Homo sapiens: one gene and its partners. The protein of the gene in region 3 interacts with the protein of the main gene of each other region in a pairwise test. Each region holds a gene or a part of one and is shown on either strand. Other genes may lie near its edges.

The links.
Region 1: the proteins of NFE2 (region 3) and PHYHIP interact in a two-hybrid assay, tested with the Homo sapiens proteins (one large-scale study listed by IntAct).
Region 2: the proteins of NFE2 (region 3) and GLE1 interact in binary tests that used the Homo sapiens proteins (3 or more experiments, as listed by UniProt).

The regions. Positions count from the first base shown.
Region 1 is NC_000008.11:22,219,083-22,222,129, reverse strand, and holds the end of PHYHIP (phytanoyl-CoA hydroxylase-interacting protein), read left to right. Parts: intron 1-242; coding exon 243-777; 3' UTR 778-2,427; downstream 2,428-3,047. UniProt on the Homo sapiens protein: Its interaction with PHYH suggests a role in the development of the central system.
Region 2 is NC_000009.12:128,539,198-128,542,847, forward strand, and holds the end of GLE1 (mRNA export factor GLE1), read left to right. Parts: intron 1-418; coding exon 419-501; coding exon of another isoform or gene 502-517; exon of another isoform or gene 518-680; intron 681-1,077; coding exon 1,078-1,141; intron 1,142-1,904; coding exon 1,905-1,973; 3' UTR 1,974-3,091; downstream 3,092-3,650. UniProt on the Homo sapiens protein: Required for the export of mRNAs containing poly(A) tails from the nucleus into the cytoplasm. May be involved in the terminal step of the mRNA transport through the nuclear pore complex (NPC).
Region 3 is NC_000012.12:54,298,842-54,302,591, forward strand, and holds the start of NFE2 (transcription factor NF-E2 45 kDa subunit), read right to left. Parts: upstream 2,175-3,750; 5' UTR 1,960-2,174; intron 1,436-1,959; exon of another isoform or gene 1,306-1,435; intron 1-1,305. UniProt on the Homo sapiens protein: Component of the NF-E2 complex essential for regulating erythroid and megakaryocytic maturation and differentiation. Binds to the hypersensitive site 2 (HS2) of the beta-globin control region (LCR).

The DNA of each region.
Region 1 (3,047 bases), on a different chromosome or scaffold from region 3:
CTGGGGAGTGACAGCTTCATATCTCTTCTCTGAGAAGGAGTGGGCTGGTTGAATCCCTCTCCAGGGCCCTCCCTGCTCTTGCATTCTGGAATGTTCTATTTGCGACTAGTGGAGGCGGCTGGGGGAGGGCTGGGAGCTGGGCTGGCTTCCTCCCTCCTCGACCACACGCAGCAGCCAAGCCTCAGCCCGGCTCACCAGCCACATCTTCTCTTCCCTTTGGTGTGTCTCCCTGGGGTGGGCAGGACCCACTGCGGGAACATGCTGCAGCCTTACCTGAAGGACAACAGTGGCAGCCACGGCTCCCCCACCAGCGGTATGCTCCACGGGGTCTTCTTCAGCTGCAACACGGAGTTCAACACGGGCCAGCCCCCGCAGGACTCCCCCTACGGCCGCTGGCGCTTCCAGATCCCAGCTCAGCGCCTCTTCAATCCCAGCACCAACCTCTACTTTGCGGACTTCTACTGCATGTACACGGCCTACCACTACGCCATCCTGGTGCTGGCGCCCAAAGGCTCCCTGGGGGACCGCTTCTGCCGCGACCGCCTGCCCCTCCTGGACATTGCTTGCAACAAGTTCCTGACCTGCAGCGTGGAGGATGGGGAGCTGGTCTTCCGCCACGCCCAGGACCTCATCCTGGAGATCATCTACACTGAGCCCGTCGACCTGTCCCTGGGCACCCTGGGGGAGATCAGTGGGCACCAGCTCATGAGTCTGTCTACTGCCGATGCCAAGAAGGACCCCAGCTGCAAGACCTGCAACATCAGCGTGGGCCGCTAGGGACTCCTGGGGAGCTGGGGGGCGAGGGAGAGATGAGCGGAAGGTGGAGGTGGGTAGCCCAGGTTCAGGGAGCTGGCTTTCTCTCTCCTGCCCCCCTGCTCCCTCCACTCTGCCCAGCTGCCCTCCCCTCGCCCCTTGGCATTGGAGGCAACAGACGGTGGTCCTCTTGGTAAGTGTGGCCCACACCCAGCCTGGTGGACATGGAAAGGCTTCTCAGCCTCTGTAGTTGGCAGCTGGGCTGGACTTCTGGAGAACTTCCCCTTTCCTCTGGTTTCCTTGTCCTACTGTTCTTTGCCTCGTCCAGGTCTCTATCTCCCAAAGACCTGCCCACCTCCTGGGCTCTCCCAGGGAAGCCCCTCTGGGCCAAAGCCCATGGGTAGCTTGGCTGCCTCCAGAAGAGATGCAGAGAGCTGTGGGGCGATCTTTCTTAGTCCCACTCACCCCACTCAGGGCCAACCACAGAATGCCCCCTCCCTGCTGAGCTGGGTCTCTGGGGCTTCCCACTCCAGGCCTGGATCCCTTCCTTCTATAAATAGTCTCCTGCACCACCGTGACTCCCTGGCTGCTCCTTGCCCCAAAGAACCCTCTTCCTGCATGGGAGAGCTGTCCCTCCTTCTCCACCTGCCCACCGGGACACTCCCCCTGCTCTCTAGAAAGGAACTCTCTTTCTTCTCTTGGCACTGGGGGCGTCAGGCTGTCGGATGTTCCTTCCTTCCATACCCCAGCATACCTTCTCCTTGCTTAGAGTGCAGGGGTCTGAGACAGCAGCCACTGGGGTTGAGGAGGGGGAGGAGACCCCTGAGACCCAGAGGTGCCCCTTCCTCAGCTGGGAGTGGGCCGCCTCATGCTCTGCTGGGGCCTGGCATGGAACGTGAGACCTGTAAGCTGTCCCGCGGGCCCCGGCACCCCGCCCAGCTGTGCACTTTGCTCACTCGCTCTGCCATGGTGCCATGACTGTACTGTGCCCATGCGTGACCTGGACTGTGGACCCTCTGCTGCTCCGCCTCTCCCCTCCCCACTGGCTCTGTCTGCTCTCCTGCCACCCTGCTGGCCGGGAGCCCCTCCCCGGGGAGTTCTTGGTGAAGTCCTTCCCGGGCCTCCTTGTGTTTTTGCCTCATTCCTACTGTCACACAGGTCACGAGGGTGGACTCCCTACAATCAACAAAGCAAACAGAGAGCCTGTGGGAGGGGCTGACAGCAGCAGCCGGCTGTTTGGGGGATGATGGAGGTGACATCAGGCAGAGGAGAGTGCAGCCTCACAGTGACTTTCTCAGAGGTGACAGAGATGATGGATGAGCAGCTGGATTTTCGTGATGAAGGACGGAAGCAGCAGCGGGCCGGCAAGGCCATACCTCGGTGAGGGACAGGTGGACAACGGTCACCTATCTGTAGCCAGGGGCAGTTGTGTGGCCAGCTGTCTCTCTGGGATGAGTCAGGAGGCCTGGAGGCTTGGGGAGAGGTGTGGAGAAGGAGAGAACATGGCCCAGGCCCTTTCCTTCCCCCTGTGCTGACAGCATTGCTGTGGGGGTGGCCCACTGCCCTCCCCTGGCCCTCATGTCCCCCCGGGGCTGGGGTCCGCCTGCCTGTGCTGTGCTTGCGACGTGCATCAATAAACCACCATGGCCTGAGGGCCCTGCTCGTCTCAGTCCATTTGAGCTGCTGTAACAAAATACCACACATTGGGTGGCTCAGAAACCGCAGATTCATTTCTCATAGATCAAGGTGCTGGCAGAAGCGGTGTCTGGTGAGGGCCTGCTTCACAGATGGCTCTTTTCACTGTGTCCTCACAGGGTGAAAGGGACTAGCAAGCTCTCTTGCCCCTCCTTTTTTTTTTTTGTAGACATGGGGAATTTCACCTTGTTGCCCAGGCTGGCCTCAAACTCCTGGCCTCAAGTGATCCTCCCACCTGCTTGGCCTCCCAAGGTGCTTGGGATTACAGGCATGAGCCACTGCTCTGGGCCATCTTGGGCCCCTTTCATAAAGGCACTAATCCCATTCATGTGGCCCCACCCTCATGACCTCATCGCCTTCCAAGGCCCTGCTTCCTAAAACTATCACCTTGGGGTTAGAATTTCCACCTAGAGCTGGGTGAGGTGGCTCACGCCTGTAATCCCAGCATTTTGGGAGGCTGAGGCAGGTGGATCAGTGGAGGTCAGGGGTTCAAGACCAGCCTGGCCAATATGGTGAAACCCTGTCTCTACTAAAAATACAAAATTAGCTGGGCGTGGTGGTGCATGCCTGTAATCCTAGCTACTGAGGAGCCTGAGGCA
Region 2 (3,650 bases), on a different chromosome or scaffold from region 3:
TCCTCTAGCCTGGGCGACAGAGTGAGACCCTATTTCAAAAAAAAATAAAAAGCTCCTGAAGTCACCATACATGAACAATGATCCTGTATCATTTGAGAACACAAGTGGTATTCTGTATACTCTCCTTACTAAGTTTGGGAGGTATACCATACCTTTAGGAAGGCGTCCATTCATTAGAGGAAAAGAAGAGTAGTTCATTAAGACCTGATTGGTTAAATGGAGATATTGCCATATAAAGAGAAATGCTTTAGAAGAAAGTTGGGTGTTTCCATTTATTCCCTTGTTAGCAAGTTCAGTGGCATTGTGGTTGAAATTTTTGATAGGTGTGAAAGATGAAGGGCTGATTGTGCTTTATGAATCTGTCCTGTGAGTGTGAATTTTCATTTTCTGCTCTGACAGTGCCTGTCTTTCCCTCTAGGTGTGTGGGAATGCCCTCATGAAGCAATACCAGGTTCAGTTCTGGAAGATGCTAATTCTCATCAAAGAGGACTACTTTCCCAGGTATCAGGCTTGTTGAGCAGACAGCAGGGGATTAAGTAACTCATAACCAGGCCTCAGATACCCAAGGGTGCTATTACCTGCTGGTTTTGATTCAAGTTAAAAACACCTGTACTAAGTATGACATCTTTCCTACTCCAGTCCCTCTCGTTGATATTTGAATAAATGCTTTTGAACCTTAATGAGAGTCTGTCTTAAATATCATTGCCCAAACAAAAACACAAATTAGGGGCTGAGCACAGTGGCTTATGCCTATAATTATGCCTATAATTGCAGCTCTTTGGGAGGCCACAGGAGGAGGATCACTTGAGCCCAGGTGTTCAAAACCAGCCTGGGCAATATAGCAAGACCCCATCTCTACAAAAAAAAAATTAGCCAGGCATGATGGCATGCATCTATAGTCCCAGCTACTAGGGAAGCTGAGACAGGAGGATCGCTTGAGCCCAAGAGTTCAAGGCCTCGGTGAGCTATGATCGCACCACCGCGCTGCACTCCAGCCTAGGTGACAGAGTGAGACACCGTTTCCAAAAGATAGGTGTATATCATAGGTGTGATTCATGTGTCTTTCTCTCCCTGTAGAATTGAAGCTATCACAAGCTCAGGACAGATGGGCTCCTTCATACGCCTCAAGCAGTTCTTGGAGGTAAGATGCCCTTAGACCAACATGCCCCACACTGTTGTTGGGCTGGAATGCACCTATGTCTGACAAGTCTTGGACCTTCCGATGCTCTGATTGCACTCTCTTCCTTAGTTCTTCCAAACCCTTCTTTTTGTTCCTAATTCCCTCTTAACCTTTGGAGTAAGGGCTGCCATTTCCTCTTCTTTATATGTATCATTCTCTATACTGCCTGTGAGAAAGCTATGCTGAGATGAGTAAAATATATTTAGTGTATCTCCTCTCATTAATATATATTTTTTTTGCATGTTGGCCAAGGTTATTTTCTTAGTCTCAGGTCTGGGGAATTGGTAAGTGTCATCACTTTTCTCCATGAGATCAAACTGCACTTTCAGTTGGACTCTTCCCCTACTTCCAAGTGCCAAGAGATTGTAAAAGGTTAATTTTGACAAAGAATTTAGAACACTATAGTGGGTTTGCCAAGATAGCCTGCTGACTTTTCAGCTTCTCAAAGCTCGATTGTGAAAATAGTGATTGTGAAAGATGAGGTTAGCCTGTAGGGAGACAAGAGTGGGACAGGAATAATAAGAGCATTTCATTTGTTGTCTGGAGCAGATCATGCAGAAGTGGACATCTTATACAGAACCATCAGTCTTACTGGCTTTTTCCTTTTTGTTCACTGTTCCATAGGGCTGAAATATGGTGTTCCTCAAAGCTTCTTTTAACCATTAAGTGTTGGGAACACTGTTATCAGAAACTCATTCTGTTTTCTTCATCTTTCCCTGACCAGAAATGTTTGCAACACAAGGACATTCCTGTCCCCAAGGGCTTTCTGACTTCCTCCTTCTGGCGCTCCTGATGTCACTCCATCACCCACCATCACCGCTGCTGCAAAGAGGCAATAATAAAGGAACTGAAGACAGCTGTATTTGGGAGAAGTCATGTCAGATTCAGAAATTTGCCATTATGTATTTTTATGTATTTATGCCTTGTGACTAGGAGAGGAGATTTTCATGGGTCACAAAATTCTTGGAGGTCCCTTAGTAGATTTGGTAGTTCCTTAAGAGATCCACGTGATAAAATAAATGGAGTTGGCCTTTCTTGTTTTTTGCAAAAGTGATAAAAGGTCTTTAGCACTTGGTCTCCTCCCTTGTCTCTAGTGTCTTTCAGAAAGTTGGCAATACCTTAACAAATGCACTCTGAGCTGGAGGGAGCCCACCATTTGCACCCACCTACCCACCCTCACCCCTGTTCAGATGAATTTCCAGAAAGAGCTAAGGCTCATAAGGTTCCCTTTTAAGTATTATTTAATAGTTGAGGCCAGATACTTACATGCAAGTCTGGGTTATGGTTGTTTTGCCTTTCTCAGCTTGTGAAGTCATTCTAAAGCTAGAGGAAGTATGTGATATACACATGGACTAAGGCTCAGGTGACACTATGGCTAGATTAACATCTGGGATTAGGACTGGAAACACATGTCATTTTGAACTAAGGGAAACTCTTTGTCATCCTAATTTGGAATTTGGTCCCTGGATGGCTAGGGATCCATGAACCAGGCAGGTACCTTTTTTGTTTTTGTTTTGTTTTGTTTCTTTTCTGTTTGAATTAAGATGGGCTAAGATGGGGCTTGCAACATTAAACATGAGCTGAGCATCCATAAGCATTGAATTGGGATTAAATAAAGATGTTGGGCAGGAACTGAACACTGCTAATATGATGATAAATATGCCTGACTAAAGCCACTACAGAAATCCAGAGATTGGCTGTTAAAATTTGTTTTGTGGAAAGACTAATTCTCTTTGATACTGCAGAGGCAGTGGCCATGGATCTGTTCCTCTGTGCTAAATGTCTTGTGGCAGGGTGTGTTTGTGGGGGAGTGTTCACTGGTACTCTTGAGTGGCCTGAAGTGACCCATTCTATGAATTGTTAATTAAGGTGCCAAAAAAAATTAATAATAAAGCTTGGTTTTTTGAAAAACCCATTGCTGATATATTGGTTCAATATGATCAATTTCCTCTGCCTTGAGCTATGTAAATCATGATAGTATACAAGTCCAGGTATAGAGCGGTATGCATTTATTCCTTTTGGTCTTCTTGACCTACACCTTGGGAATATTACTTCTTTTTCTGTCATTTCCTTTTTTGGAATTATGTACTAATAACTGACCCTATTTTATCTAGCAAGAGATGTGAAAGTGTATTAAAATCTTTGAAAGACACAATAGGCCGTGCTTAGTGGCTCATGCCTGCAGTCCCAACACTTTGGGAGGCTGAGGTGGGAGGATTGTTTAAGTCCAGGAGTTCAAGACCAGCCTGGGCAACATAGTGAGACCCCCATGTCTAAAACAAATTTTTTTGGCCAGGCGCGGTGGCTCACGTCTTACCAGCCTGGCCAACATGGCAAAACCCTGTCTCCACTAAAATTACAAAAATTAGCTGGGCATGGTGGTGTGTGCCTGTAATCCCAGCTACCCAAGAGGCGGCTGGGGCAGGAGAATTGCTGGAACCCAGGAGGCAGAGGCTGCAGTGAGCCGAGA
Region 3 (3,750 bases):
GGAATTTGAGACCAGCCTGGCCAACATGGCAAAACCCCATCTCTACTAAAAATACAAAAATTAGCCAGGTCTGGTGGCGCACACCTGTAATCCCAGCTACTCAGGCGGTTGAGGCATGAGAATTGCTTGAACCTGGGCGGTAGAGGTTACGGTGAGCTGAGATCATGCCACTACACTCCAGCCTGGGCAACAGAGTAAGACTCTGTCTCAAAAAAAAAAAAAAAGAAGGGGAGCAAGGGGAGGCAGGAGTTTGGGGGAGAGAGAGTTGAGGAGAACCTCTGGATCCATTCCAACCAGCTCTTGGGTGCAGTAGCAAGTTTGTACCAGGTGGCAGGTGGAGCAGGATGCTTTTCCCTAGACGCTCAAGGATGGATGGTGTTCTATACACCAGGCATAGGGTCCCTCTGGGTTTCCAGAGCCTACCTTTCAGAGGACAGCAGAGCTGGCAGGCAGTGGGATAGATCAGGGAGATAGATAGAATTGGATCAAATAGAACACCATAGAGGGTATAGAAACTGGGGAGATACTGGGAAAGTGAAGTGGGCTTCCCTGTGTTCCCTTTCTTTTACAATAAGAAGCTCCCACTTTACAGTTTAGCTTTTGCATTTTGGGGTCACACCACCATCTTACTCCCACTGGGTTGTCTGTTCCTTCTCTTACTCCCCAACATTATGGATTAGGTAGAAATGGGGTTGTCACCAGGGACTAAAGTCCATCCTCCTTACTCTTAGCCTGGTGGTCCTACCCAGAAAGATTTTTATCATAATCCCTAAGTACTCACAGAATGATACGGAGCTTCATGATTAGGAATACAGAGTGAGGACTATTCGGAGAGGGATGATGGAGAGAGGAATACATTTGGCCTTAGCTGCTGCCCCAGGGCTCTTAACTTCCTTAACGAGGGGGAACGATGAGAGGGGGCTTGCCTCAGGATCCCTTTTCTGAGGCTTATTTGACCACCTCACCTCTCCAGGTGTCAATAGGTGCAGTGAAAGGATGAGGAGGGATTAGTAAAACTTGGGGTATTGGTTAACCGGTAAGCAACCTATTTAGAAAGATTAGGGAGAACTCCCGAAGAGAGAGAGACACACAGAGATGAGACAGAATGAAGGGGAAAAAAAGGAGGGAGAGAGATTTAAGCATAGTGAGCTCAGTGCCCTAGGGACATGCATGACTCAAACAAATGTGTGAGAACAAAGAAGAGGGGGACGAGTTTCTGCTATTGTGTCACTTCATCCCTGGACCCCAAACTCCAGTCCTTTGGTACCGATGTCTAGGGGATCCCAGCCCCAGCAGTTCTGATACCTCCTCTCTTCTCTTCCACTGCTTCCCAAGCCCCTATTTCCCAAGCAGCCAAGAGTTCCAGTTAGAAGCAACTATGCTGGGGTTGGGATGTCTTCCTTCTCCCTCCAGGTCCAGCTGATCTCTACTGCCCCTGGGCACAGAGAAGAGAAAGGGCAAAGGAGCCAACAACCCAGAGGCAATCTCCCATCCAACCCCCGCACCTTGCAACACTTCTCAGAGGTTCAGATATCCAGTGTTTCCAATTCCTCAGCTTTCCCTAAACCTTCTCAGCTGCCTAGACAGGGCAGAGTAATGGAATGGAGTTGGGGAAAGGGTAGTCTATTGGTTCCCTCAGGGTAGCCCACCAGTTGAAGGATTCCTCCTGGCTACTCCCCAGCCCCTCAGCGGTGCCTTGCCTCTGGAGACCCCTCTCTGATCCCCATTCACAGCCTCCACCCCAAGGATCCCAGAGCACCCAAGAAACCACTTAGGTCTTCTCCTAGAGGAGTTCCCAAATATGTCAGATTCCTAAACCAGGGGCAATCTAGAAAGTCTGAGGTCTCCTAGGATACCGAAAGTTGGTTATTTTCCCCCCTCACCTCCTTCACCCCCCAGCCTGCCCCTCGGATCTCACTGGAATCCGCCCCCCCCACACACACCCTGCCTTTCAGGCACCTGTGGTGGAGTCACAGCAGGGTGAGGAGAGAGATGAGGCTCCCGGTGTTGTCTCTGGGGAGGCTGAGCCTGAGCTGACACTGCTGGACGAGGATCCCGGCTACCTTTGAGAATCTGCGAGGACCGCGCCCCGCCCCCGGGCCATTGCTGAGCGCTGAGTGTGGAAGCTCAGGCTGAGCTGAGCACAGGAGCCCCAAGCAGGCGCACCAGCGTCTGAAGCCCTCGGCCTGAGTTCTCAGTCCTTCCTCCAACCCTCCCCTTTCCCCGTGGCTCTCCTCTCCTCCTGCCCCTTTCGGCCAAGAGAGGAAACTTGAGCCCGATGTGGTTTCTGCCCACACCCCGCCCCCACCTTGCTCCTGGCCAGCGGGGGCACACATGGCTCCAAGCCTCTCCCAGCCCTCCTTTTCAGCCCAGGAGTCCAGCCAGGTCTGCGTTTCTCCCATGCATTTGACGAATTCCAACCTGATGGTCCACTCGAATGTGACCTTTAAACTTTATACAGGTTGTCGTCGCCTTGTGTCCCCACGGCTCTCCTAGGGACAGGGAAACTGAGTCATATCAAGGTGGAAGGCAGCTGAAGGTAAGGACCAGGTGTCTAGCTTCCCAGCTGTCTAGGCAGTTGGACGTTTAGGGTATAGCCTTCATTTACAGAAAACCTGGGCTCTGGGAACAAGGGCAGGGGAACTATTTGGAGGAGGAGGGGCAACTGACTGCTTTGATGTGTCCTTTCACCTGTAGCCTTCTCCCCTCCCCCCTCAGCCTCAGAAGTCCCAGGACAAAGGATTCTTTCTTGGCCAGGTTTTTGTCAGTGTGTGAAGGGAGTTAGGTGGGGGGCCACCCAGCAGGGAGATTATTCACCTCCCGTAAAGGGGACCCCAGGTGTCCTTTGTCCTCCTTTCTCCCAGGCAAAGCACCCCAGCCACATGGCACCCAACTCTGTTAGGCCAGTAAGTACCCTTATTCATCTTTTTTTTTTTTTTTTTCCAGAGAGGGGCTCACTCTGTCTCCCAGGCTGGAGTGCAGTGGTGTGAACATGTTTCACTACAGTCTCAAACTCCCAGGCTTAAGCAATCCTCCCACCTCAGCCTCCCAAGTAGCTGGTTCTATGGGTCAGTGCAACCATGCCCAGCTAATTTTTTTTTTTTTTTTTTTTTTTGGTAGAAGTGGTGTCTCACTATATTGCCTTGGCTGGTATTGAATTCTTGGGCTCAAGCAATCCTCCCCTCTTGGCCTCCCAAAGTGCTGGGATTACAGGCATGAGCCACCTCACCCAGCCCACTTATTCATCTTTTTGCCTGCAAGCTACACCACCAAAGCCCCAGGTCAAACATCTTTCTCCACAGACTGTGAGAAAAGAGCCTTTCTTCCTCCTAATTTGTAATGGCTTTCAGCTCTATATGTCTAGCTTCAATCCTGACATCTGCAGCTTACATTTTTTCTTCTTACAATGTTCAAGTTAAATTAGAAACATCTGAAGACTGGGGAAGCAGATAGGTGCCACTCTGGAGTAGGACTGGCATTCAACCAGCATGCTCTGATGGGATTGTATTTGCTGTTAAAATAATGAAAATGTTCAGTCCTAGTTGATAAAAGGCAGCTGCTGTGAGCCCTCTAAGTGTCCCCCACGACTCCACCAATAGCCTAGTTCTCCTCTAAGATCCCCAACAACCCAGCAACACAACCATGGAAGTAAAGAGGCAATGCTGGTACCATAAGGAGCCTCCTGTGCTGCCTGCTTCTGCTGGAATTGGCCAATGCCCATGCCAAACCTATGGTTAAATGCTTTGAATT